4 linked regions of the Homo sapiens genome follow. The protein of the gene in region 1 interacts with the protein of each later gene in a biochemical or structural test. Each region holds a gene or a part of one and is shown on either strand. Other genes may lie near its edges.

The links.
Region 2: of the proteins of AKT1 (region 1) and PTPA, one has a biochemical effect on the other in vitro, tested with the Homo sapiens proteins (2 studies listed by BioGRID).
Region 3: of the proteins of AKT1 (region 1) and PDK1, one has a biochemical effect on the other in vitro, tested with the Homo sapiens proteins (3 studies listed by BioGRID and IntAct, with this or other methods).
Region 4: of the proteins of AKT1 (region 1) and GAB2, one has a biochemical effect on the other in vitro, tested with the Homo sapiens proteins (2 studies listed by BioGRID).

Annotation. Positions count from the first base shown.
Region 1 is NC_000014.9:104,785,725-104,792,748, reverse strand, and holds part of AKT1 (RAC-alpha serine/threonine-protein kinase), read left to right. Parts: intron 1-26; 5' UTR 27-105; coding exon 106-151; intron 152-7,024. UniProt on the Homo sapiens protein: AKT1 is one of 3 closely related serine/threonine-protein kinases (AKT1, AKT2 and AKT3) called the AKT kinase, and which regulate many processes including metabolism, proliferation, cell survival, growth and angiogenesis.
Region 2 is NC_000009.12:129,135,391-129,142,414, forward strand, and holds part of PTPA (serine/threonine-protein phosphatase 2A activator), read left to right. Parts: intron 1-1,080; coding exon 1,081-1,205; intron 1,206-2,201; coding exon 2,202-2,302; intron 2,303-7,024. UniProt on the Homo sapiens protein: PPIases accelerate the folding of proteins. It catalyzes the cis-trans isomerization of proline imidic peptide bonds in oligopeptides. Acts as a regulatory subunit for serine/threonine-protein phosphatase 2A (PP2A).
Region 3 is NC_000002.12:172,566,081-172,573,104, forward strand, and holds part of PDK1 ([Pyruvate dehydrogenase (acetyl-transferring)] kinase isozyme 1, mitochondrial isoform 2 precursor), read left to right. Parts: intron 1-775; coding exon 776-853; intron 854-1,119; coding exon of another isoform or gene 1,120-1,136; exon of another isoform or gene 1,137-1,942; intron 1,943-2,660; coding exon 2,661-2,737; intron 2,738-4,645; coding exon 4,646-4,744; intron 4,745-7,024. UniProt on the Homo sapiens protein: Kinase that plays a key role in regulation of glucose and fatty acid metabolism and homeostasis via phosphorylation of the pyruvate dehydrogenase subunits PDHA1 and PDHA2.
Region 4 is NC_000011.10:78,407,804-78,414,827, forward strand, and holds part of GAB2 (GRB2-associated-binding protein 2), read right to left. Parts: intron 1-7,024. UniProt on the Homo sapiens protein: Adapter protein which acts downstream of several membrane receptors including cytokine, antigen, hormone, cell matrix and growth factor receptors to regulate multiple signaling pathways.

The sequences.
Region 1 (7,024 bases):
CATTCAGCTTCCTTTGCTTCTCCCAGAGGCTGTGGCCAGGCCAGCTGGGCTCGGGGAGCGCCAGCCTGAGAGGAGCGCGTGAGCGTCGCGGGAGCCTCGGGCACCATGAGCGACGTGGCTATTGTGAAGGAGGGTTGGCTGCACAAACGAGGTTAGTACCCGCTGCCAGGGCTGGGCCTGGGGAGGGAGAGATGGGGGTAGTAGCCCCAGGGTCTGTGAGTGCCTGTGCCCTGCTGGGTGGGAGGGGCTGCCTCCCCTGGGGCTCCTGGGCTGGCCTAGGGTGAGTGTCCTGGGCCCCATGTCTTCCCATGGCATGGAGGGCACGGCCTCGGGGAGGCCAGGAGGATGAGGCCCTGTGCAGGGCCGGCCATCTGAGTGGCTTCCTGGTGTGGGCCCTGGCAGGCGGGGGAGCTGCTGCCAGCCTCTCTCCTGGCTTTCCTGGAAGGCAGCGAGGACACTGGGCTGTTCCAGGGTCTGGCACGCTGGCGGCCCAGGGCACTGCCCAAGGGCTCCTGAGGGCAGGGCAGGGCTGCTTGGCTTGGCCTGGTGCCTGCTTCAGGCCTGAGCTTTGGGGGTGGGGGGAATCCGTACCGCCTGGGCACAGGGCATGTTTGCCTTGGAGCTGCAGAGCTGGCTGAGCCAAGTCCCCCAGCCCCTGTGTCCCCCTCCTCACTCATTTGGCCTTGCAGCCTATGGAGGAGGTGCTGCCCGAGGGGCCTGGCCAGCAGCTGGGTGGGATGGGAGCTGGGGACATAGCCCCACCCCTTCCAACCCTGTGCAGGCCCTTCTGCCTCACCCACCCTCCGTTGCTCAGCGGGGTGCGGTGGAGTCTGGGTGGCTGTTTTGCTCCTCTGTCCTGCTAGGGTGGGCTTCCTGTTCAGGTCCAGGTCCTCTGGCCAAGTCACTCTCTTCTGCCCCAGGCGGAATCGGTCCGCCCTCTCCTGACTTCTTTTTCCAGACTTGTTCCCTCCTAAGTTCTAGTGATCTCATGCCAGCAGCCCCCCGGCTTTACGTACACCCTCTAGCAGATGGGTTTCACATCTGGTAGTGGGGAGACCCCAAACACAGCTGGAGCAGACAGGGAGGTGTGGCAAAAGTAGGTGTCACAAGATGGGGCATTGTGGGATGTATAGGAGCTCACAGAAGAGCAGGCCTAAGGAGCCACAGGAGCCTGGGGGTGGGGTGAAGGAGTGACCGAGATGAGATGCTGGGGGAATCAGGGGTGTGGCTGGCTGTGTGTTTGGAGTGTTTGAGTGGGCAGCTACCAGTGATGGCACGCGGGGCCTCGAGATGAAGACAAGGAGGCTGCAGACGCCTGTGGTCCTTGGGGAGCTTCTGGCTCTGCTTCCCCCCAAGGCCTCCTGCCGCATCCTGCCTTCTCCATCCCCTCCCCGTGTGCTGTCCCCTGCTTGTTCCCCAGGAGTCCTGCCACCTGTGCCTGGAGGTCCTCTCCTCACCTCACAGCCCTCTTTGGTGTCAGGGACCCCCTGCCCCGACCCTGGCCCTGTTCCTCTCTGTGTCACATAGTCTGCTGCCTGGGGCCGCTGCTTCTTTATCCTTGGCAAATGTGTGTTTGTTGATAGACTGTTGGATCTCGGGCTGACCCAGGAGATGCCAGGGCCTTGACTGCCCAGGGGCCCAGGCCCCAGTTACTGGGGCACCCATCAGCCAGCTGGGCCTAGGCAGGAGTGCTCCCCCGAGGCCAGGTGATTTTCAGGCTGCTGCTGATGTCGTGCCTTCAGGAGGGGCCTGGCAGGGACAGGACATCAGGCCCAGTGGGGCGTCCAGAGAGCTGAGTTTGAACCCTGGTTAGCCACTCTATCGCCATGACCCTTTCCAAGAGCAAGGTCATTGAGCTCCTTGGGCCTCAGTTTCCCCATCTACACCAGGGAGCGGTGGTGGGAGAGAGACCTGGTGGAGTGGAGAATGGCTTGTGGGCGGCCCTGAGTTGGGGTCCGGCCAGCCTCAGCAGCCTCTGGGCTCTGTCATCTGGCCCCTAGCCTCAGGCCAGGAGAGAGGGTCCTGTACCTCTACCCCCGGCTCTTCCTCCTCCATCCCCAGTGTAGTGGGCGCTGAGGATGGGAGGTGGCGTGGATATGACATATGCCCTTGGCAGGCATAGCCCCTCTTGTTGCCGAGAGCAGGTGGCGTCCACCCGCATGGCCGGCCGCTCCTTGCGGAGGAAAGCCTGTCCTCCGGGGCCTGCCGCATTTCGCCACTCCCGTCCCTGGGGTCCCCTGTGTGTCTTGCAGATGTGCTGTGCCACCCTCCTGGCAGGGCCAGCCCCACCCGCAACACTGGTTAGAGGTACTAGCTGCCTTCCTGTCCCTAGCAGGGCTGTGCTGGGCTGACCCCACCCGTGCTTCACAGTGCTCAGGCCTGGCTGGGGGTGGGGAGGGAGGGAGGGACGCAGTGACTGTCCTCCAGGCCCGGCCGCAGCCCCTTGCAGACGCCCTGTTCCACTCCCCCCCAGCCTTGCTCCTGCAGGTCAGGGTGCTTGTCTCAGAGGCTGGCCCGCACCTGTCCCCTTTGCCGGGACTCCCCACGACCGTGGCCTGGGGCACTTTGGTTCTCAGCTGAATCCCCAGGTGACAGTCCCACCACGGCTACTTGGGCTGGCCACACGTGGCGTGATGGTGCCTTCAGGGGTGATGTGGTCATTGAGATGAGAGGGGACGGGTATGCCCTGTGTGTGAGGGGTGGGGTGGCAGTGTCTGCAGGCTCCTTCTCCTGCTCCTTGGGAGGTGAGCGTCATCTCTGGGAAGTGGCCCAGGCTGCTTTCTGTTGTTCTGATGTGTGTGCTCTGAGTCAGAGGAGCTTCAGGGACAGAAGGGACCGGGCATGGGGACACAGGAGTTCCGGCTGCAGGCCTGTGTGGACCTGTGGCTGGACCCAGGCGAGGCCTCTGGGTCTGCACATCTAACAGGGAGATGGTTCCTGGAGGGTGAGCTTAGGCTGTTAAGGGCAGGAGCTAGTGAGGAGGCTGGTGGGGCCTATAGGGACAGGGGGCCAGATGTCCCCTCCTGTTTCGGCTGTCTCACTGGATAAGCAGCCCAGCTCAGCTCTGGCCATTGGTGGTCTGGTGGGCTCAGTGTTGCTCAGACGTTTGCATTTTCAAAGATTTGTTCTGTTGTGTGAAGTCTCCTGATTTTTGAAGGCTGACAATTTTAAAAAATCAATCCTGGGCCAGGGCGCAGGTCTGGCTGAACTCGGCCTCCAGCCTGCAGTTTTCCTTCCTTTGATAGCTCCGTGCCAGGCTTTGGCCAGAGGCTGTGTGGCTCTTTTGAGGTACTTTCCCCAAACAGCTTGCTCACCTTGCCCGCTTGCCCCAGTACTCCTGGGGCCGTGCACCAGCCTGGCTGCAGCCTAGCCCCGTGGAGAGCTGCCCTGGTGCAGCCCCGGCCTGGAGCCTGTTTTTGTCCACTCGCGGCTGTCTTCCTGAGCGTCCCCCCGTCCACATGGCTGGACCAAGTGGGTCAGGAGAGGGCCGAGGCGGGTGGCCGGGATGCTGGGACCCAGGATGAGGTGCTCTGGGCTCTCGAGAAAGGGCTGGGCCTAGGCCAGGAGTGGGTGCCGGCCGCAGGGGCACCACCTGGACTCCCTCAGGCTGGTCGCTGTCCGAGAGGGGCCGGGGAAGAGCTGCAGGCCTGGCTGCCTTCGGCAGGCTGTGACCCAGCAGGCCAAGGCCGAGTGGGCGGGGGTCGAGGGAAGCTGCCTGGGGCGCGTGGGTTACGCGGCAGACGCTCCTGAGTGTGTGGGCAGCGTGTCCAAGCCACGGATCTGGGTGCCTGGCCGGGCCCGGGTGACACGGGACCGTGTGTCCATGCGGCTCACGGAGGGTCCAGTCTCCGGACATCTGAGTCCTTGCCATGCCCTACCCCGGGCCCATGCCTGGCATAGACCCCCCAGTCCAGGCCTCAGGGCAGCCCCCTCACCACTCCTGCTGAGTTAGCCCCAGGCGTCCCGGTGGGGAGTATGGAGGCTGGTCTCTGACCCCAAGCAGGTGCCTAGGCTGGGCCTCCTTCCCACCCCCTCTCCCCGCCTTGAAGTCCTGGCACTGGCTGTCCCTGCGGGGGGGCACTGAGGCAGGGAGAGAGTGGTTCCTACCCCAGTGTGTTACTTCGCTTTGGTGAGCGACATAGAACCTCACTGCATCCCCAGCTGCTGCTCAGCCATCCAGCTGGTCCTGGGGTCCCTGCGTGAGGTGGGGGACCTCAGAGGGTACAGGCCACTCCCCTTCATCCTGGAGGAGGCCTTGGCTTTGCTGAGTAAACACCCTTGAGAAGAGGTCTGTGGGGGACTCTGAGCCCACTCCAGAGAGCAGCTGCTGCGGAGGGCCCCGCAGGGCTAATTGTTTGTGTGCAGATGGAGGCTGCTCATTACCCCGCCAGGATGAGGGGCCCAGCAGGACCCTGAGGGAGGGAGCCCGCAGACTCTCCCCTCAGCCTGTGGGAACCTTTGGGCTCCAGGCCAGGGCTGCCTGTGCCTCCTGGGCCTCAGTTTTTCCCAGGCTGTCAGGTGAGGGTCAACCCCAGGCTGCGTCTAGGTGGCTTCAGTGTGAGACCCGCGGGCCCTGGGCTGGTTAGTGCCAAGCTCTGCCTCCCCTGGGGGAGCGTTGAGGGTCTGGAACGGCCCCCGTGGGCAGGCCAGGGACAGAGATGGGGAGGCAAGTGTGCTGGCTCCTGGTGGGAGGGCTGGGCAGAGAGTGGGGGTCCCAACAGCCCTGGGCCTACCCGGGAGAGGGGCAGGAGGCACAGGCTGGTGGAGGTCATGGCATGGCTGTGGTGGAGGCCGCCAGCATCAGGGAGGTTCCTGTTTTGGGAGCTTGTTGAGTTCTCACTTCAAAAACAACAAAAGAGGAAGCCGAGGTGGCCTTGAGTGGGGGTGAGGGGTCACTGCTGGCCCCAGCCCTGGACCTTAGCCCCCACGCCTGGTGGCTCCTGAGTGGACAGCTCTTCTTCCTGTGTGTTTCTTGGTCACTGGCCCTCTCTGGGCAGGGATGCCCTGTGGGGGGCTGGACTCCGGGAAGGGAAACTGAGGCCCAGGAGAGTGGACAGAATGTGGGTGGAATGATTCCTGTGCTGGGGCCTAGACCCCCGTACACCTTCCACTCTCAGGAGAAGCCTGGCCGGGTTGCATCAGGCCGGGTTCCTAGAAGTCCTGCACGAGGCTGAGCGGAGGGAACTGGCGCGGCCCCCGCTGGCGTCCCCTCTGCCTGGGCACACCCGGCCCGGCTTGGGGCCAGCACCCTGCCCTCGGGCCCTCCCATAGCTGAGACTGGTGGCTGTGGCTGTGGCTCTGGGCCTGCTCCCCAGGCCACCCTGGGTGGGCAGCTGCCTGCTGCTTCTGTCTGCTTGGACCATTGTGCCTAGTCCCATGGCCTCAGGAGAAGGTTCCCCCAGCCCAGCGCTGGGGCCCCGGGCAGGTTGGCAGAGGGCCCTGGGGCTCCAGGCCAGGATGGGGCTGTTAGGCGAACCCTAGGCCCCTTACTTCCTCATCTCCAACGGGAGTTCCCTTCCCTGCCATGCCGCCTTTAGGTGTGTTTTCCTTGAACCTTAAGGAATGATAGGTTTGGATTTCAGAAACGTTGGAATTGAGGGGGTTGGGAGTTCATGGGTGACTCTGCTGCCAATGTTGCGGGCTTTGGGGTGGGATCCTTGGGGCGCTGTGTTTGGGCTCACACACCCCCCAGGCGGGCCCGGTGACTGCAGACCCCACCCATACCCTGTAACCTGGCGGGCCCACCTGCCCAGGCCCTCAGCTGGTTGTCCAGCTCAGGGGTGGAGACACCCCCTGGGCAGGCCTGGCGGGGAGGTGGCTGCTCCCTGGGCCTGGAGAATGCAGAGAGGCCCTTCGGCTGGCCAGGGTCTGGCTGGCCTCCCCACAGACTGGGGCCAGGGGCACAGCAGCCAGGTGTAGGGCGCGGAGACGCTGAGCTGCACAAGCTTGGTGAGGTGTGGGGTGAGGCCACGGGGGTCAGGGCCACAATGTCCCAGCAGGCCGGGGGATCAGAAGGAGCACCCTCCACAGCTGGCCGTGCTCTGGGGGCCCTCCTGCCCCAGGCGTGGCTCCAAGTTGGGGCAGAAACAAGATGGTGGGGAGATGGAAGGCCCCTCTGTGGCGGGTGCTTCCCATGGTCGGTGTGGAGGACGAGGTCCCTACTGCCTGGTTCCAGTTCCCCCAGCAATGCAGGGCACTTTTCCTGGGGTGTCAGGGATTGAGAGGCCAGCACTGGAGCCCTTCAACCGCCAGGGGCCCTGCCCAAGAGAGACGGGAGGAGGGAGGGGCTGTGGGCATGGCTGCGTGCCCCCGGCCGAGCCCCGGAAGGAGCCTGTGCCCGTGCCCACTTCCTTTCCCGAGGGCAGTGTCTACACGTGGGACACTGTGGCCAGCCCTCCCTCGCAGCAGGCACTGTGTGCTGTCCCCATGCCCAGCTTCCTCCCACGCAGGGAGCGAGGGTGAGGGCCCTGGGAACCCACTGGGTGGAGGGCACTTGGCAAAGCCTGCTGCAAGTTATGGGGAGAGTGGGCGGGGGCAGAGTAGGAGGCGCCAGGGAGGGGCTGCAGCCTCATCTGCAGGGGTCCTGAGTAGGCAGGGTGGGCCATGACATGGGTGGGGCTTGTTTGGGGCAGACCAAAAATGAGGTGGGGGACAGGGACAGGGACAGGGTCTTGGGATGTGCTGGGCTCTGCGATGGATGGGTGTGTGGCAGGTGGGGTGCCTTTGCCGGCCCGAGGGGTGGGTGACGGGCAGTGCCTGTGGGGGAGGACATCCAGGCCCAGGTGGTCTGTCAGGGGCAGCACCAGGGAGGCCCAGTACCCCACCCAGTAGAGCCCCAGGAGAATGGAAAGCTGAGACCCAGGTGCTTCCCTGGAGTGGCAGGAAGAGAGGCCCCAGCGCCTCCGGCTGTGCCTCAGCGAGGTGGACGGGGTCATGGTGGTGCCGCCTGCCCGCACCATGTTCCTCCCGGGGTGTGTGTGTCGGGCTGAGGCCTGCTCCATGGTGGAGCGGAAGGAGGTGAAGA
Region 2 (7,024 bases), on another chromosome or scaffold:
TTAAAAAAAAAAAGAATTGTCACATAATGTCTGCCAGTATTGACACAGTGTTGACCATATGGAGGAAGAATTCTAAGCACTTTATGTATAACTCATTAATTCTAACAACAACCCTATGAAATAGCAACTGTTATTTCCATTTTACATATGAGGAAACTGAGGCACAGAGATATCCGGTGTCTTCACTGGGTTCACGCCAGCTGAACCCAGGTAGTCAGACTCTGACCTGCTGCCCCACACCACCCAAGCCAGTCGCTGGGCAGCACTGATGTGGATCAGTTACCCAGAGCTCTTAAAATCCCCATTGCGGGCCCCAGTCTAGCAGTGCTGCTGCAGCAGGCCTGTGACGGAGCCCAGGAGCAGTGCTCGATGCTTCACAGGTGGTTGATATGCAGCCTCTGATAATATAGAAGGTTGGAACCAGAAGAACCTAGGAGATAACCTGCTGGGACTTGTGTTAGCTTTCAGACAGGCCAACTGAGGCTGGAGAGGCTGAGGCCCTGCCCAGGGTTTTACAAGTTGTCAGGAGTTGATGGCACCAAAACCCACCTTCCTAATCAGTGATTTTTTATTTATTTATTTGTTTATTTTTTTTGAGACAGGGTCTTGCTCTGTCGCCCAGGCTGGAGTGCAGTGGAGAGATCTCGGCTCACTGCAAGCTCTGCCTCCTGGGTTCATGCCATTCTCCTGCCTCAGCCTCCAGAGTAGCTGGGACCACAGGCGCCCACCACCACACCTGGCTGATTTTTTGGATTTTTAGTAGAGACGGGGTTTCACCGTGTTGGCCAGGATGGTCTCGATCTCCTGACCTTGTGATCCGCCTGCCTCGGCCTCCCAAAGTGCTGGGATTACAGGCGTGAGCCACCGTGCCCGGGCCCTTAATCAGTGATTTTTATGCCTTTCCTGAGCCAAAAGATGGCTGAGTGTTTGTTGGGGGAAATAAAGCTACATTATTGAAATTGAGACCAGTTAACACTCTTCAGTGGTTATTTTGGGGTCTCCTTGTGCTCCCAGTGGCCGAAAGGGTGAGACTGTCTTTTTACTTTTTGCTACCTTCCCTTTCCCTGTCCTCCTGTGCAGGTACCTTGAGGTTATGCGGAAACTCCAGAAAACATACAGGATGGAGCCAGCCGGCAGCCAGGGAGTGTGGGGTCTGGATGACTTCCAGTTTCTGCCCTTCATCTGGGGCAGTTCGCAGCTGATAGGTACTAGAGCGGGAGGTGCCTATCCCTCCACCCCCAACCAAGGCTGCGTTCTGTGGCCCTCCCCTGCCCCTCCTGCGCTCCCTCCTTCCCTTCTTCCTGCCCAGGGCAGACAGTGACAGCTTGGAAAGCAGGGCATTAGACCAGCTATTGAGGGAGGCTGTTTACTGTCGACCTTCTGCTGTGAGAGCCCGTGTGGTGGGCTGGAGGAGGCGGAGGCCAAGCGCCACCAAGATAATGGGAAGTGACATGGGCTGGAGCAAGGGCGCACGCCTGGTGCATAATGGACTGGTGTGAAATGCGCCCCAGCTCCTGGCAGCAGCTGTGGGGTTTTATGTTGAAAATGAGGGACCCTTTTGATTTGGTGACCAGTGTCATCCACTGTTATTATCGAGCTGTGTGCAAAGGGGCCCGTTAGGGAGCAGCCGCCAAGTGCTGGGTGGTGGGCCTGCTTCCTGTGGGGCTCAGAGAGGCCTGCTCTGGTGACTCCCCAACTCTTGAAGCTAGTTTTCAGGATGGGCGTAGGTGATCATCTCTATTTTGATGAAGAATGAACTGCCTACAGACTGATATTCATAAATGACCATTAGTTGTGGCCTCGGGTGCATTGCCTCCCCGAATCTTCTCAGTGACACTGCGAAGGGTCTGCCAGCATGAAGCCGGCTCTGCTGACTGGCACCTGCACCAGGCACCATACTGAGTGCTGTAGGTGTGGTAATTGTTGTCATGGCCCCTAGGAGGAGGTGCTCTTCTTGTCCCCAGTGTCCAGGTGAGGAAACTGAACCTTGGCAGGCTGAAGTCATGCGTCCAACGCCATGCAGCTAGAGCTTAGCACATTAGAATACACAAACCCAGAGTTACTTATTGCTCCTTCAAGGTGAGGTGTTGAGGGCACCACGGGCAGGACTGAGGCCCCTGGGGGGGTGTGACTGCTGGGCCGGGTTGCCCAGGTAGTCGTGGGGCCTGGTTCTGAATGCTGGGGCCCATTCCTTTTCCCAGACCACCCATACCTGGAGCCCAGACACTTTGTGGATGAGAAGGCCGTGAATGAGAACCACAAGGACTACATGTTCCTGGAGTGTATCCTGTTTATTACCGAGGTGAGGAGGAGGGGTGAGAGAGAAGCCCATGGCTGCCTCCAGGCTCAGATGAACCAAGGCTGGTGGCCTTACAGTGGATCAGAAGAGCCAGAGCTGCTGCCCAAAATGGCAGGGCCGGCCGGAGCGGGTTATTGAAAAGGAAGCACCACTGGGCCTCTTCCGAAAGAGCCGCTGCTGACTGTCAGGTCCTCCGCCCAGTTCTCCTTCAGTTTCTCCTGAACACCACAGGAGTCTTGAGATGAGGGTCTAAGACTTGGTCACTAACTGGCCTTGGTGACTGCTGCAGCAGGTCTGAAAGGGTCGGGGCGGGCGGAGGTTTGTGGGGGAGGGTCAGCATCTTTCGGTGGGGCCCCACAAGGGTCTGTAGAACCATGTGCTGTGGATGTGTAAAATGAAACCACCAGAGGAGATGGAGCGAACTTCTGGTGCAGACAGCTTTTCTGTCGAAGGGACACGTCTCTGTCAGTGCCTGAGGACGTGGGCCCGAGCAAAGTGCTGGAGTGGGAGTGCGCAGGCCTGGCCTGTGGTGGCAGTCACTGGATAGCCAGCCCCACGGCTGGGTTCTGGAACTGGAAGTTATTGTCTCACCAAGGCAGGATTCCTTGCAGTGGGCCCTGGACCACTTGTGCGAGATCTCCTAGTGTGTTTGTTAAAACGCACATTCCTGGGCCCTCCATCCCAGCTTATTGCATCAGAATCTTAGGGGACAAGAGCCAGGAACCTGCATCTAAACACACGTGCCAGGCGACTGCACAGGAAAGCTGGGGACCCTCTGCTCTCTGGACCTCTCTTGAGGGAGGTGTTAGGACTTCTCATCCTCTCTGCCATCCCCATGCCCCAGTTTCCAAAGGGCGCCCTCGCTCAGCTATCTGGAGAGGGTTTGAGAGTTCTATCCCTCCTCAGTCCCTTTCCCGACACCAGCACGGATGTCTGCTGCCTCAGTGAGGTTCCTAGCAGGCCTGTGGATGCTGGCCACGGGGGCTGCTCTCCGTCCGGGCTGTGTATTCTGAGCCCCCGACGAGGTGGAGAAAGCTGGGTTATAACCAGCAGCCTTGGCTCCAGGCTCTTCCTGGTCAACATTCGGCTCAGGCTTCTGCCAAACTCCAGAGGCCAGAGGGGAATGACACATTTTTTCCAAGTCAGCAAATGGAGCCGGGACTGACGGCTGGGCGGCCACCACTTCATTCCCGGAGATCTGCTGCCCTCAGCAGTGTGGCAGGCCCAAGGTCGGGAGGACTTGGGGGCAGCCTGGCTCACTGCCTTGAAAGCCAGTCACGCGCTGCTCTCTGTGGAGTGGAATGTGGGGGTCTGCGGAGCCCTGGGGGACCTCAGGATAAGCTGGAGGAGCAGGGTGGGAAGAAGGGTGCAGATGCCACACTGAGTTCTTGGGTGTGGCTGAAAGGCTGAGCTGTTTGGGCTCCCCCGGCGGCTGGCCAGGCCTCTGGGTCCCTGTCGGTATTCTAACTAGGAGGCATGCCAGGCCTGGCCTCCAGGATTTTGGGAATTGATTCCATGGTAAAATTTTGTCTTTAGTTGGTTGGTTGATTTTGTTGGTATAAACACCCCAAAAGCTTTTCCAAAGTTTGGGACCCAGTTCCTCCAGTAGAGGAAATCTCAAAGTAGCCACTAGGTGGCAGGAGAGGCACACTGAACTTGGAGAGGGTTTGGTGACATTTATTTGAGGCAGCAGAAGGAACAGGGAGGGGAGGGCGTGCCTAGAGTTGTTGGCTGTTCCGCACCTTCTCCACAGGTCCGGGTTTTCACTTTGGGTCTAGGCTCTTGGGCATGGTGTTCAACAGTAGACCCTAGGAGGAGTGTGCCCAGGAGCCGGGGTGGCTGCAGCAAGGGCCCATCTTGCCACGTGGCCGCTGGTTGCAGCACACGTTGTGTTGGTTCTCCAGAGCGCCCACCCTCTTCCACCTCGGAGCAGTGAGCAGCATTTTGCAGTCCCTAGTTGGTGAGTGGCCTGGCCTAGCTCACTGGGGACCTGGAGGCTTGCATGGAGTTCTGTACGCCTTGCTTGGGAAGGAGGCAGTGTTTCCTCTGGAGACCCTGGATTCACCATGGTGCTCTTTTAACTGGGAGATTAACTAAAACACCGAGAACTTGGGAGTGGAATCAGGCAGCCCTTTCAGGGTCTCATGCCAAGACTGCCCTGATACCCGTGGGCATCCTAGGTGAGGGACCCCACCTTGCAGGGCCTCTACAGCCTCTGTAAATGCAGCCCTGGCGCCTTTAAGAGCCCAGGGCAGGCAGGAAAAGAATTTCAGTTTCAATCTGGCTTCTAAATTTGGAGTTTTGGGAAGGGAGGGATCAGATTTCAGCTGGAAGGGAAGGAGCTGACAGGAAGGCGCTGTGCAGAGCCTCCCCACCCCCGCCCATCCCCCCAGTTACTGACAGAGGAGCCATTTACAAAAGGCCGATTCTCTGGGGAGTGGAGAGGCAGGAACGCAGCGTCTGTGAGTAATTTCCTGCTCAATATGGCTGCTCTGACTCACACGATTCCCCTGGGGTCACTGCGGGCTGCAGCTCGCTCGCTCATTCTGGTTCTTTCTCTTCTCCCTTTGTGGCTAGAATGAGCTAATTTTTTCTTTGTCTTCCAGCCCCGATTCCTTTTTCTCCCACTCGTCTGTTTTCCTTTGCCAGAGTTACAGGCAAAGGACTGTAACCTCCCTGAAGGACTTAGGGAGACCCTGGGGTACTGAAGGCCTGGGGGCAGCCTGCAGCCCCTCCAAAGAAACTACCTCTCTGGCCTTTCTGTGTGTAGGGGCCCAGGGCCACTGGAGCTCCAGGACATGGGCCTAGCCCTGGCTCTGCCAGAGGCCTTTTGAGGATCTGTTCTTTGGCCCTGGTAGGCGAGGCTGGCCAGGAGGCAGGGGCTCTTGTCTTCCAGTGCCCATCTGCCTGCCTTTGCCTCGGAGCCCTTGCCGGGCAGGCCCCTGGCAGACAAAGCCGACAAAGCCGACAGGGTGCCTCCTGGTTGCTTGCTCAGAGGGCCCTGTCCAGAGAGTGAAACTGGTTACACAGCTCCATGCTCCCTGAGCTTTCCTGGGCCTGGAAGTGTGCACAGGGCTGGAGCCTGCAGACTGGGGAAGGGGTGGGGTAGGGTGGGGAGGTGGGGGAGGGGCTGGGGGTGGAGTGTGGTTGAGCAGGGCAGTTGAAACAAAGCTCCCCAGAGGTGAGGCCCCTGTAGGCTCGGGGTGCCTGGCTGCCCTCCTGGAGGAGAGAGCCTGGGGTGATTCTGAGTGAAGCGAGTGGTCCAAGACAAGGCCCCCAGGGACCAGAGTGGGCTTTGTCTCTGTTGGGTGCCTCGGGCTCTTGCCTGGCTGTGGTGGAGCCTGGGAGAGAAGAGGAGGGGAGGGAGGAGCCTGTTGTCCTTGCTCCTGAACATGGGTGTTTGGATGGGCTTTTTGGGAACCTGGGCCAGGGGAGGGAAATGAGGGGGATAAAATGACAGGTTTTTTTTGACTTAAATCTTAAAAGTTTTGTCACAGTTGCCCTTACTAGAGAAGTAAGAGGCCTGCCAGGAGTGGGTCACCAGGTGGCAGCCCATGGCTCAAGAGTGGGGGCTCCTGAGGGCTCTTGTGGTGAACTGATGCCCCTTTTTGGAGAGCGTTTCTGGCTTATCTTTTCTCCTTCAAAAAATAACCCAGTCTCCCCTGACACCCGCATGTTTCTAGAACCTTCCAAGTCTCTGTTTCTTTGCCAGATTCAGCCTCTTTGCAGAGTCTTCCTTCTGCAGCATGGGTCTGGGGTACAGAGCCCTGTTCCCCTGTAAATGCTGCCTATGAGCTGGGGGGCTGTGTCGAGGGGAATTATGAACTGCTTGGTTAATAAATACAAATGTGCTGGACTTGCGGTGTCAGGGGGATATGCTCAGGCACACAGGCGTCCCTCTGTGGTTTCTGACGTCATGGGAACTTCATGCTGGCTGCAGAATCTTTCTCTTCCGTCCTGGAGGGTCAGACTCTTTGGCAAGAGGGAGGACCAGGAATGGAGCCGTCCTTGTGCCTGCCTCTTTCAGCTGCTGTGGCGGCCACCCCTTCCCCACCTCCTGGCCAGGCCAGGCTGGCTGCTGCTTCAGGCACCCCTGCCTCCCATCGGCCCTCTCTTCCCTGCCTGCATGGCAGGCAGAGGGCTGTCGGATACCTGGGTTTGGTCATACCCACCTTGGTCCTCTTGCAAATTGACCCTTTCCTCATCTCTTCTAGCTCTGCTGGTGGCAGGTGCAGACCACGTGTCCTGTGGGGGGGCCTGGGGGAGAGGGGGTGGGCCTGGAGGGGTGGGGCCTAGCTGCTGCTGCTATTTATCTGAACCCAAGTGAATCCCTGTGCTGGAGAGGCGCTCTGAGGCTCCTGGGGAGTCGGTGGGAACGACACCAGAAGCTCAGGTGGAGATCTTATCTTCCTGAGGCTGCTGGATTTGGTGGGCGATAGGAATCAGGCCCCCTTTTTTTGGCTGTGGGAGAAAGAGGGGTGACTGCGGGTAGGTGGGCAAGGAATGTTATATTTTCCTAGCAGGCCTTGAGGGCCAAAGGGGAACCTTGTCTCTGGCACTTGCATGTGCCTGTTTGTATGTTTGCCCCTCAGGCAGATGCTATAGCTTGGTCCCCAAGTGTCTGCGCGTGCATTGTGTGCGTGTGCGTTTGTGTGTGTGTGTGTGTGCATGCATGGGTGTGACTTTGCTGCAGGGGAGGAGGGATGAGCTCCCAGCCAGAACCTG
Region 3 (7,024 bases), on another chromosome or scaffold:
AAGAGTGTTTCCTAACCAACTCTTAAGTTTTGTTACATAGATAGCAATTATTTTCTCCAGCCTGTTATTTTTCTTTTTTACATTGTTGGTGTCTTTTTAGCATATAGACTTTTACATTTTTTTTGTAGTTATATTTGTCATTCATTGTTTATGGCTATTCAGCTTTGTCATGTCACACTTAGACTTTCCCTGGGCCAGGCACAGTGGCTCATGCCTATAATCCCAGCACTTTGGAAGGCTGAAGCGGGTGGATCACCTGAGGTCAGGAGTTCGAGACCAGCCTGGCCAACATGGTGAAACCCCCTCTGTACTGAAAATACAAAAATTAGCTGGGCGTGGTGACCCATGCCTACGTAGTCCCAGCTACTTGGGAGGCTGAGGCAGGAGAATCGCTTGAACCAGGGAGGTGGAGGCTGCAGTGAGCCGAGATAGCGCCACTGCACTCCAGCCTGGTTGATCGAGACTCCGTCTCAAAGGAAAAAAAAAAAGGAAAGGCTTTCCCTGGTTGGGGGCAGTGGTTCATGCCTGTAATCCTAGCACCAAGGCAGGAGGATGGCTTGAGCCTGGGAGTTGGAGACAAACCTGAGCAATATAGGGAGACCATGTCTCTACCAAAAAAAAAAAAAAAAAAAGCAGACTTTCACCAAACTATCAAAGTATATTTTCTTCTGTAGAGAGTTCAAGACTTTGATTTGTCAATACCATTGCCATCTTAATGCGTGAAAGAGAAGTATATTTATTAAATCCTTTTTTGTTTTGTTTTGATTCACACTAGATGGCTATGAAAATGCTAGGCGTCTGTGTGATTTGTATTATATTAACTCTCCCGAACTAGAACTTGAAGAACTAAATGGTAAGCCTGATGTTGTCTTTTTCTCAATAATTAGTGCTTTGATTACTTGATAAGGGATAAGAATTTAAATGTTTTAATGGAAGATGACTTTTTATCAACTTCGTTGGATATGAAGGCTAAAGGATAGTAATCATGTAAAAAATATATCTATAAACATATGTAATTTAGTCAGATTCTTTATGAAAAGATTTGGCTTTTTGTATCACATTTTCTTTATTTTTAATTGATAACTTTGATTCTTTGCTTATTTTTTATTTTCTGTTTAGTCATAGAAAGAAAATGATACCAAGAAAGTTACATTTGACTTTTACATGCACTTCACTAATGTAAGACTTACCCTTTTTCTACTTCCTGAGTTGTAAATAATTTTCTGTTGTTGAGGACATAGACTGGGGTTATAAAAGAGGAAAGAAAGATGCTCATCTATTTGAGAATCTGTTTGTCTCTGATGGTTTTCTTTTTACCCTGATTAGTGCCTTTTGGACAAAAAGGGTTTAGATGCCTTGAAGAGGGATTGATGAGTCTCTTTTTCCTGAAAGCATGGTAGTTTGACAGAAAAAAGCATTTCCTAAGATGACACTTTAAGAAGGTGTGGGAAGAATAAAACAAAATAGGCTTTTACTAAGCTGTATTCTGGACCTTAGAGTGAGAGAGCAGTGAAGTTATGCAATTGAAAATAGCATTGCTTGGTGATTTTCTAAAGCCATATTAACTCTTTTGAGCCATGATGGTAGCATAGCATTTGGTAAATAACAATCACAGTGTACAAGTAAGTGATAGTTTGCAAACCTGAACTGCTGTGAGCAATTTCCAGATGTCCCATTTTTGTTCCCAAGGGGGAGTTTATTCAGAGGAAGGTCTGATTTATTGGTTGAATTAGAATTCTAAGATATCATGAGTCTTAATCATTTGTTCTACTAAATGTCTGTTTTATACACACCCCTATCACCACCCCCAGTGGGGCTCCTATTAAGTGTTTAAATGTAGAATTAATTACTGTCTCGAGAAATTGATGCTAGCTCATATTTTTTATTCAGCTTTATATCCATCGAAATGCCTGAAATAAAACAATATTCCACCCAGGTGAAACATTTTGAAAATGGCTTAAAGAATGTATGGGCTGGGCGCAGTGGCTCACATCTATAATCCCAGCACTTTGGGAGGCCGAGGCGGGTGGCTCACAAGGTCAGGAGTTCGAGACAAGCCTGGCCAATATGGTGAAACCCGTCTCTACTAAAAGAAAAATCAGCCAGGCGTGGTGGTTGGCGCCTGTAATCCCAGCTACTCGGGAGGCTGAGGCAGGAGAATTGCTTGAACCTGGGAAGTGGAGGTTGCAGTGAGCCAAGATCGCGCCACTGCACTCCAGTCTGGGCAACAGAGCAAGACTCCGTCTCAAAAAAAAAAAAAAAAAAAAAAAGAAGAAGAAGAATGTATGCATGCATGTGAATTGGACTGTGGAATTTAAAGATTTTAACACTTCTCTATTTGGAAAGTAAAATTCCTACCCGAAAGTTAAGCGATCTTAAAAAAGACTTTACCATCCTAGAGAAAAATGGGCGCATGGGTTGGTTCGATTGTGATGCAAGATTGTGAGAAGTGACCACAGGACTCTTGTCATCATCAGTTGTAAATATTTGTGGGTATGGGTTCAAACACTAATACATTGAAGAAATGGTGTGGCAGTTCTCCCCCAGGTAATACTGTCCTCCGTAGTTAATGTTTTCTTTTCATCACTACACAGTTTATTCTTAAAAATGCTTTAAGCACATCTCTCTGTACTTTCATATTTTTCTCTTCTGCTCTGTAGCAAAATCACCAGGACAGCCAATACAAGTGGTTTATGTACCATCCCATCTCTATCACATGGTGTTTGAACTTTTCAAGGTTTGTAAAATAGTATTACATAACCTTTACCAGTACTTTTCTGAGGTTAGGAATCTGCTCTGAAAGCCAAATATTCCACTAGGTTCTCCTATTAAGAAGTGCCATTTCACATCAGTATCATATCACATTGCTGGAGATCAGCTTTTTATCAACACAGGGAGACATCTCCATGTAGTGGTGAGCTCAGACTATGGAGTCAGAAAGACCTGGGTTTGAATCCCAATTATGGCTCTTAATATGTGTGTGACCTTGGGCAAGTCACTCAACCTCTCTGAGCCTCAGTTTCCTTTTCTGTAAAACAAGAATACTGTCCAGGATTGTTTATGACTATTGGGAATAACATACTAAGTGTCCAGTACAGTGGCAACGTATTACATATAGGTGCTCAATAGAGTTATCTTTATGTTTTTATAAAACAATATTTAGAAGAGTGATTCTCAACTTGCTACCCTCAAAGGACCAGAATTCTTTTTTTGGTCTGGCTTTTCTTGGGAGGGGGAGGTCATTTATATTGACTTACAGGGTTTCTGCTGTAATCTTTGCTCTTTACAACAAAATTTGAAAACAAATTATGCTACTAATATTGAGAGTATCTTTTTTCCCCGCCAATAATACTTGCTGGTTGACAAGAAAATGGGTGAGGAGTGAGGGGCACAGGTCCTGGTGGGTGAAAATGATTGCCCTCTATCAGAAGCTTGTAGTCTCTCTTCAGTTGTGTTTCATCAGCCAGCAGCAAACTAGAGGAAAGAGGGGGTGGCTTTCAATCTGATAATGTAAAGGAAAAGTGCACTGAAACACAGAAAAACTGACCGAATATCTTAGAACAGCAGCAGAATGTTCTTTCTTCCAAGACAGCAAAAATGTATTTAATACCTTACAAAATCTTTTTTAAAATATTTATTTTATTTTTTGTAGAGTTGAGGTCTCACTCTGTTACCCAGGCTGTCCTTGAACTCCTGGCCTCAAGCAGTCCTGCCCCAGAGTGTTGGGATTACAGGCATAAACCACTGCACCTAGCCCTAAAATCTTTTTATCCAAGTAGTTAAACAAGTAGTGATGGGCACTTCAAGCATTAACACGAATTTTTTCCTTGAAATTCCAGTGGCATAAAGATCTTGTGCCCTATGATTGAGGCACTCCGTATTATATTGTACATAATGTCAGTAATAATGGCTTTCACCTGGAACCTAATCTTAACCTGCCTTTGGTGGAAATGATGGAATCTCCTCCATAAGAGGACTCAATCGCAATTGCTGTGCCAGGGCCACACACTCTTACTTCCAAATTCGGATGCCTTTTTAGTTACATCTAGTTTATATCATTTTCTACTGCAATGCTGAATGTCATGATATTGTTTAAGGCTTCTGATATGTTGGCACTGTGTACCCTATTTCCTTTAGAAATTAGTCAAAGCAGCTTTACAATGACAATACCCTTAATTTCAAACTAGAGATAAAGGGATTCATTGCTCCATCAAATACGACCATCGCTGTTACTACTATATGAAAAAAATTGCTTTCCTTTAAAGAAATTTATGACAGTTTTTTAAATAGTTCTAAAAATATAGCTGAAACTACATTTTCAAAAATGTTTTGCCCATCATTTACTAAAATTATAAAAGTGTTTGAACAGAGTTTTCTGCTTTAATGTAACTAGTTAAAAGTGTTTTGAAGTCTGACTTTGGAAAATAAGCAAAATTTAGTTGGAGTCTTTAGGTCAGAATATCCTTCAAATCCCCCCCAAATTGACTCCATTAAAAAAAAAACTTTAAATGTGGTTATAAGAATTGTGATTCTTTGGCATATTTCCATCAAATTTTAAAACTTCAAATAGTGCATATGTACTTGAAAATTACACTTTCTCTTTTCTAAAAAGCTGTATTTTTAATACAACCCTAATGTATTTCAGAATGCAATGAGAGCCACTATGGAACACCATGCCAACAGAGGTGTTTACCCCCCTATTCAAGTTCATGTCACGCTGGGTAATGAGGATTTGACTGTGAAGGTAAATGTGTTTAATGGTTTGTTTTCTTTTTTTTTTTTTTGTAATTGATGAACAGACATGCAAAGGTAACCATACGCATAATTTCTAAAAGACATAATCTACTCTCAGGGGAAAAGAATCTTGTCTGTAATAGATAATAAGCACATTGCTTCATTGAGCTGGTGGATTATAGTTATCCCTTGAGTCTTTTCTATGCAGGTCCCCCGTCGAGGTGATTCAAGTTAAAATAAATCTTGGAGACAGACAATTTATCATTAATATCTCTTTGATAAGTAAGATCTAAAATATTTGGGTAGTTGCAGTATTATGGAGATAGTATTTTATATATAATTTAAAAAATTTTAAAACAGTGCTTTCTAATCTACTGGTTTCATTTGATTCTCATGACGTAGGTAATTTTATCCTCACTTTTACAGGTGTGGAGACTAAGACACAGTGATTAGCTCAGGATCACACAGGGCAGAAATGCTATGGGACATGATATCCAGTCTTCTGTCCCCAGTGCTAGGCCTTTTCTATTACATTGTTCAGGTGGCCCAGTTTCTTCTTTTACATTTTATTAAAAATTGTTTTCTGTCACCCAGGCTGGAGTGCAGTGGTGTGATCATCACTCACTGTGACCTTGAACTCCTGGGCTCAAGCAATCCTCCTCCCATGGCTTCCAGAGTAACTGGGACTGCAGGCTGCAGGCATGCAAGCCTGGCTAATTAAAAGAATTTTTTGGTGGGTAGAGACTAGGTCTCACTTTGTTGCCCAGGCTGATCTCAAAACACCTGGCCTCAAGTGATCCTCCCACCTTGGCCTCCCAAAGCACTAGTATTACAGGTGTGAGCCACTGTGCATGGCTCCAGTTTAAGAGTATGATAGTGTTTTTCTTTTTTAATAATCATTTAAAAATTTATATTAAAGTAATAAATGCAGAGACTATAAAAATTCAAATGTGTCAGTTCCTGGCCCTTTGTAGGCCTCATTACTCAGAGATTCTTAGTCTTTCTTTACTTTTTTTTTTTTTTTTTTTTTTTTTTGAGATGGAGTCTTGCTCTGTTGCCCCAGGGTGGAATGCGGTAGTGTGATCTCGCCCACTGCAACCTCTGCCTCCTGAGTTCAAGTGATTCACCTGCCTCAGCCTCCCGAGTAGCTGGGATAACAGGCACCCGCCACCACGCCTAGCTAATTTTTTGTATTTTAGTAGAGACAGGGTTTCACCATATTGGCCAGGCTGGTCTCGAACTCGACCTCGTGTTATCCGCCTGCCTCGGCCTCCCGAAGTGCTGGGATTACAGGCATGAGCTACTGCACCTGGCCTAATGTTTACATTTTAAACAGTAAATATTACCTTTCTGTTATAGTAGTTGAGGAGTTAGCTCTCTTTAATAGAGCACCTGCTCCCCTCCCCTCCCCTAGCCCAAGGGCCAGTTTCCCTATACTATTATCCCAATATTTAAGTTTGTATATGAAATTCGAAGCTGAGAATAATCATCCTGCAAAATTTTGAAGGCATCCATTGTTCCTTTTTTAAAAAAGGTACAATTCAGTGGAATTCATAAGGTTATTCAAGTATTGCCGCTGTCTCATTTTAGAACATTTTCATCAGTCCTAAGAAAAAACCCAAGTACTCCGTCAGGCACAGCAGCTCATGCCTGTAATCCCAGCACTTTGGGAGGCCAAGTTGGGCAGATTGCCTGAGGTAAGGCGTTTAAGACCAGCCTGGCCAACATGGTGAAACCCCATCTCTACAAAAAATACAAAAAATTAGCTGGGTGTGGTGGCAGGCGCCTGTAATCCCAGCTATTCAGGAGGCTGAGGCACGAGAATCGCTTGAACCCAGCAGCAGAGGGTGCGGTGAGCCAAGATTGCACCACTGCACTCCAGCCTGGGTGACAGATTGAGACTCCATCTGAAAAAAAGAAAAAAAGGAAAATACGCAGTACCTATGAAGTCACTTCCCGTTTTTCTCTCTTCTAGCCCTTGGCAACCACTGATCTATTTTCTGTTTGTGTATTTCTCTTTCTGGGCATTTTATATAAATTTAATCATGCAGTATGTGGTCTTTTGTTACTGACTTCTTTCACTTAGTATAATGTTATAGTATGCATTTGTACTTCATTCCTTTTTATGACCAAATGATATTCTGTTATATGGATATAACACCTTTGGGTTATCCATTCATCAGTTGATAGACATTTGGTTTGTTTCTATTTTTTGGTTATTATAAATAATATGGCTATGAATGTTTGTGTACAAATTATTGTGTGAACATGTGTTTCAGTTATCTTATGT
Region 4 (7,024 bases), on another chromosome or scaffold:
AAGAGGGCATTTTACCTCCTGAGGGAAAGCAATTGGAAAGACCATGGATTTTTCATTAGAAACCATGCAGGCCAGAAGGAAAGGATGCAGTATTTTACAGGTGCTCAAAGAAAAGAAGTGTCAACTAAATAATTCAATATCCAGTGAAAATATCAGAATGAAGGGGAAAATGAGACCTTCTCAGGTGAAGGAAAATAAAGACAATTTATCACTGGCCAATCTACCCTAAAGAATGGCTAAAGGAAGTTCTCTAAACAGAAAGGAAATGAAAAAAAGAGGAACCTGAAAACATCAGCAAAGAAGAAAGCACATAGTAAACAAAAATGTAATTAAATAGTCTTTCCTTCTGAGTTTTCTAAATTAGGTTTAATGACTGAAGCAAAAATTATAGCACTGTCTGATATAAAAAAAATATTTAAGACAATTATATATGGAGGATGGCAAAAGGACATAAAGGGAGGTAAGGTTACTATACTTTACTTAAACTTGTAAAATGATGATACAGACTTCATTTAGATTATAAGACGACACCAACTGACTGTTGTATGTACAGTATAATACCTAGAGCAACCACTAAAAAAGCTGTATAGAGAGATACACTCAAAAACACTATATAGATAAATCAAAATGGAATTCTAAAAAATATTCAAGAAACTCACAGGAAGGCAAGAAGAAAACAAAAACAGAACACAAACAAAAAATAAAGTGGCAGAACTAAGCTCTAGCATATTAGAAATTATATTAAGTGTAAATTTAAATATACCAATTAAGACATAAATCAGCACAGTGGATTAAAAACATGCCCCATGATATGGTTTGGGTATGTGTCCCTGCCCAAATCTGAGGTCAAATTGTCATCCCCAAATATTGGAGGTGGGGCCTGATGGGAAATGATTGGATTATGGAGGTGGAGTTCCCCTTTGGTGCTGTTCTCATGATAGTGAGTGAGTTATTGTGAGATCTGGTTATTTAGAAGTGTGTAGTACCTCTCCCCTCACTCTCTTCCTCCTGCTCCAGCCATGTAAGATGTGCCTGCTTCTCCCTCACCTTCCGCCATGACTGTAAGTTTCCTGAGGCCTCCCCAGCCATGCTTCCTGTACAGCTTGTGGAACTGTGGGCCAATTAAACCTCTTTTCTTGATAAATTACCCAGTCTCAGGTAGTTCTTTACAGCAGTGCGAGAACGGATTAATACACCCCAACAATATGCCACCTATAAGATATCACTTCAAATACAATGATATGGGTAGGTTGAAAGTAAATTGATGGAAAAGATGTATCATGTGAATATCAATAAAAGGAAAGCAAGAATAACTATATCATCAGATATAGGCTATAATATATCAAGTAGCCCTCAGATACTTGTATAATATATCAGATAACAAGTAGACCTCAGAGCAAAAGAAATTACCAGAGACTCAGCAGGTATTATATAAAGATAAAAGGGTCATGCCACCAAGAAGATGTTGCAATTCTAAATGTGTATATATTGAACAACAGGGCTGGGTGCGGTGGCTCATGTCTGTAATCCCAGCACTTTGGGAGGCCGAGGCAGGCGGATGACCTGAGGTCAGGAGTTCGAGACCAGTCTGGCCAACATGGAGAAACCCTGTCTCTATTAAAAATACAAAATTAGCCGGGTGTGGTGGCGCATGCCTGTAATCCCAACTACTTGGGAGGCTGAGGCAGGAGAATTGCTTGCACCCAGGAGGTGGAGGTTGCGGAGAGCTGAGATCATGCTATTGCACCTCCAGCCTGGGCAACAACAGCGGAACTCCATCTCCAAAAAAATAATAAAAAAAATAAAATATGTGAAACAAAAACAGATATAAGTGAAATGAGAAACAGAAATATTCACAATTATAGTTGGAAACTTCAACCCCTGTCTCTCAACAATCGACAGAAGAACTAGATAGAAAAATCAGCAAGGATATAAAAGAATTATATATATCACTATCAATCAAAAAGATATAATTGACATTTATGGAATACTTTACCCAATAATAGCAGAATAAACATTCTTTTCAAAGTACCCATGGAACCTAAAGCAAGATAGACCACATTTTCAGCAATAAAATAAACCTTGACAAGTTAAAAATAATTGAAATCAAATAGAACTTACTCTACTCCCACAATGAATTCCAACTAAAAGACAGAAACAGAAAAATAATGGGAAAATCTCCAAACATTTGGAAACTAAACAATGTACTTGTAAATAATCCATGGTCAAAGAGGAAAGTCTCAAGGAAAGTAAAAAAAATATATATATACTGAGCAAATAAAAATTGAAAATGCAATTTATCAAAATTAGTGGGACACAGCTAAAGCAGTGCTGAGAGGGAAATTCATAGCAGTAAATGAATACATTAAATAAGAGGAAAAGTCTCAAATGAATAAACTACTATATAAAAAAATCAGAGGCCAGGTGCAGCGGCTCATGCCTGTAATTGCAGCACTTTGGGAGGCCAAAGCAGGCAGATCACTTAAGGTCAGGAGTTTGAGACCAGCCTGGCCAATATGGTGAAACCCTGTCTCTACTAAAAATACAAAAATCAGCTGGGCATTGTGGCACATGCCTGCAATCCCAGCTGCTCGGGAGGCTGAGGCAGGAGAACTGCTGGAACCTGGGAGGTGGAGGTTGTAGTGAGCTGAGATCGTGCCATTGCACTCCACCCCAGGTGACAGAGTGACATGCTGTCTCAAAAAACAAACAAAAAATAATAATGAAGCAATGTCAGTATGCAAGAATAAGGGTTAAAAAAATAAAGCAGTGGACCCACTACAGACCCTGCAGACACTGAAAGCATAATACAGGATACTGTAACTCCACTCACATGTATGTAACAACTTAGACAAAATGGACCAATTTGTTGAAAAATGTAAACTTCTATAATTCAGCCAATATGAAGTAGATAATTTGAAGAACCCCGTATCTATTAAAGAAATTGGATTAAAAATGTAAAAAATTCCTAACAAAGACATTTCCAGATCCAGATGGTTTAATCTGGAGAATTCTACCAAAGGTTTAAAGAATTATACCAGTTCTACACCATCTCTTCCAGAAGGCTAGACATGGTGGTTCACACCTATAATCGCAGCACTCTGGGAAGCCAAGGTGGGAGGACTGCTTAAGCTCCGGAGTGTGAGACCAGCCTGGGCAACGCAGGGAGACCCTGTCTCTACAAATAATAAAAAAAAAAATTAGCCAGGCACAGCAGTACGCAGCTGTCGTCCCAATTACTTGGGAGGCTGAGACAGTAGGATCACCTGAGCCCAGGAATTTGAGGCTGCAGTGAGCCATGATTGTGCCACTGTCGCCAGCCTGTGTGACACAGCAAGATTCTGGTGGGGGTGGTTGGGGGGGGGGATGGTGGAAGGAGAAGAAAATAAACGAAGGAAGAAAGACATATATAAATAAATGTAAAATAAATTCATGGACTGGAAGATTTAATATAGTAAAGCTGTAATTTCTTCCCAAATTGGTACACAGGATTAATGCACTTCCTATTAAAATCTCAGCAAGACTTTCTTTTTTTTGCATAAACAAGATTATTCTAAAATTTGTATTGAAAGGTAAAGATAATAGAATAGCTAAAACACTTTGAAAAATAAGAATAAAGTAGAGGAATCAGGCTACCAGATTTCAAGACTTACAATATAGCTAGAGTTGGCAAGATTCTATGGTATTTGCAGAGGGACAGACACATGGAAAAATGGACCAAAACAGAGACAACAGAAACAGACCCACACAAATACGTCCAACTGATTTTTGACAAAGACGGAAAAGCAATTCAATGGAAGTAGGATGGCTTTGTCAACAACAATGACAACAACAAAAGAACCTCAATCTAAGTCTCACATCTTACATGAAAATTAACTCACAGTGGATCACGGACTTAAAGGAAAAACATAAACCTGTAAAATGTGTAGAAAAAAAAAAACCAGGAAAGCCGGCGCAGTGGCTCACGCCTGTAATCCCAGCACTTTGGGAGGCCAAGGTGGGCGGATCACGAGGTCAAGAGATTGAGACCATCCTGGCCAACATGGTGAAACCCTGTCTCTACTAAAAATACAAAAATGAGCTGGGCATGGTGGCGCACACCTGTAGTCCCAGCTACTCAGGAGGCTGAGGCAGGAGAATCGCTTGAACCTGGGAGGCAGAGGTTGCAGTGAGCCAAGACTGTGCCACCGCACTCCAGCCTGGGTGACAGAGTGAGAATCTGTCTAAAAACAACAACAACAACAACAACAACAACAAAGAGAATCACTTGAACCTGGGGAGCCGAGATCATGCCATTGCACTCCAGCCTGGGTAACAAGAGCAAAACTCCATCTCAAAAAAAAAAAACCTATATATAAAATACTCAAATTCTTGAAGACATTTGACCAAAGAGGATATACAGATGGCAAATAATCATATGAAAAGATGTTCAACATCATTAGCCATAAGGGAAATGTAAATGAGAACTAACGGGTGAATGGTTAAATAAACAGACTGTGTGGTACATCCATACCATGAAATACTACTTAGCAATAAAAAACAATAACTATTGATGCATGAAATGAGGATGAATCTCCAGAGAATTATGCTGAATAAAAAAAAGTTCAAAATCTTAAGTACTGCATGAATCCATTTAAATAACACACATGAAATATCAGAGAACAGATTAGTAGTTGTCACAGATTAAGGATGTGGTAGGGGTGGGATGGTAGTGAATACGATTATAAAAGGGCAACATAAAAAATCCTATCATGATGGAAATGCTCTGTATCTTGACTGTATCATTGTCAATATACTGTTGTGATACTGTACTATAATTTTGCAAGATGTTACCATTAAGGAAAACTGGATAATGGCTACATAAATCTTTGTTTACTATTTCTTACAACTAGATGTGCATGTAGAATTACCTCAAAATGAAATGTTTAATTTTTTTAAAAAGCCCAGGCTTTAGGACAAAGCTAGATGACTTTGGGTAAGTTGCTTCCCTTATTATAGGGCTAAATTACTACATTAAAAGATCAATGGTCTAAGCATAGTGCCTGGTACAAAGTAAGTGCTCAACAGATGGCTACTAAAATAATCCTAAAAGTCATGGCAGTGGGGATGAAGAAGCGTATAACAAGATATTTAGATGATACCACTAATGGGTTTTGGTGACAGATTAGATGTGGGATAGTGGGTGACGGGGAGTCAAAGATGATGCCCAAGTTTCTCATCTGAGCAAGTAGGTGCTTAGTGGCACTGTTTACTGAGCAGATGTGGAGTGAAGAGATGAACAAAGAAGAGTTTAGTTTTGGAAGTGGTGAGTTTGTGTTGACTGGGAAACATTCAAATAGAGATGCCCAGTTAACAGTTGGATATGTAAGTCTGAAGTTCAGAACACAACTCTGAGATGGAAATTTAACTTGATGACCACCATGCAAATGATAACTGAAGCCAGTAGAATGGACAAGGTTGCCAAAGGGGAGAAACCACACAGCCACTATGACTATAAAGGAGCTTCAACCTTTAAGGACTGGATAAAAGGGTCAGTCTAGCAAAGGAAATATAGAGTAGCCAGAAAAGGAGAAATAACAGGCATTTATAGTGTCAGCCAAGATAAGAGGAAGGTGTTTTAAAAAAGAGTGGTCAACTATGACCAAGCAGTGAAGAGATTAATTAAAATGAGGAGTAAAAAATCATCCTCTGAGTTTAGTGACCTGGGTATCGCTGGTGCCTTTGTCAGAATAGCTTTGGTGAATAACAAAGTAGGTTTCCACTGGAGCCGACTGAGAAGAAGGTGGGAGAAAGGAAGACTGCATAAACCACCACCAAGTTTATCCCTGAAAAAAAGTAGGTAGTACAGAGAGGGAAAGAAGTTGAAGATGTGTTACAGGATAAGAATTATTTGAGTAGGGAGGAGAAGATATGATTCAAAGTATAAGTAGCAGGATTAGCTCAGATAGAAGTGGCACTTCATCTACTCTAAGAAAAGGAAACAAGAAAGGAACCATGCAGGCTGGGCGCGGTGGCTCATGTCTGTCTGTAATCCCAGCACTGTGGGAGGCCGAGGCGGGTGGATCACCTGAGGTCAGGAGTTCAAGACCAGCCTCACCAACGTGGTCAAGCCTCATCTCTACTAAAAATACAAAATTAGCCAGGTGTGGTGATGCATGCCTGTAATCCCAGCTACTTGGGAGGCTGAGGCAGGAGAATCGCTTGAACCCAGGAGGCAAAGGTTGCAGTGAGCCCAGATCGTGCATTGCACTCCAGCCTAGGCAACAAAAGTGAAACTCTGTCTCAAAAAAAAAAAAAAAAAAAAGGAAGAAAGAAAGGAACTATGCAGATACAAGTAAATTTGAAAATGTGGCCATTCATCGTACGTACAGACAACTACTCCCTCATCATTTCAATTTTCCTTTGAAGGAGAAGGCAAAGCCATTGCTAAGACTGAAAGACTGGATTAATTTTTTTTTCTGTTTACTGGATTTTTATTCCAAGCACCTGATCCAGTGCCTGGGACATAGATTTAATAAGTATATTTAATAAATATAATGGAAATAAACAATTACTGTTACCTTAATGCAGTAGTTCTTTACAATTTGTGCACAACTTTCTTCAAGTTAGCCACTAGGGGGTAGTCTGCCAATCTTATTCCCTCAATCTTTTAATCCAGTGAAATTGATAGAAAACTACAATGCAGTGTAGGTCATATTAATAAAATGTTTTTCCTCAAGAAAATTCTGTTTAATAATTATATACATGTACGTGTGTATGCATTTGCATGCACGCGCATACACACACAAATACACTGAGGCACGATGGGAGGGTTGTTACTTCTGCCGGCCTCCCACTGCAGCCATATCAGGATGCCCCAGAGGCAATAGTCAGCATTTTCCAGAGACACTTTTTGCAATTTCTCCAGGGCACTCAGTAAATAGCAGATAGGTCTCTTATACTTATACTTAATTAACTAGAAAAGGCTGATGAAAAAAATCCCTGAAAACTAATTGCTCAAACATTTGCCTTTGCTTCTTCTAAG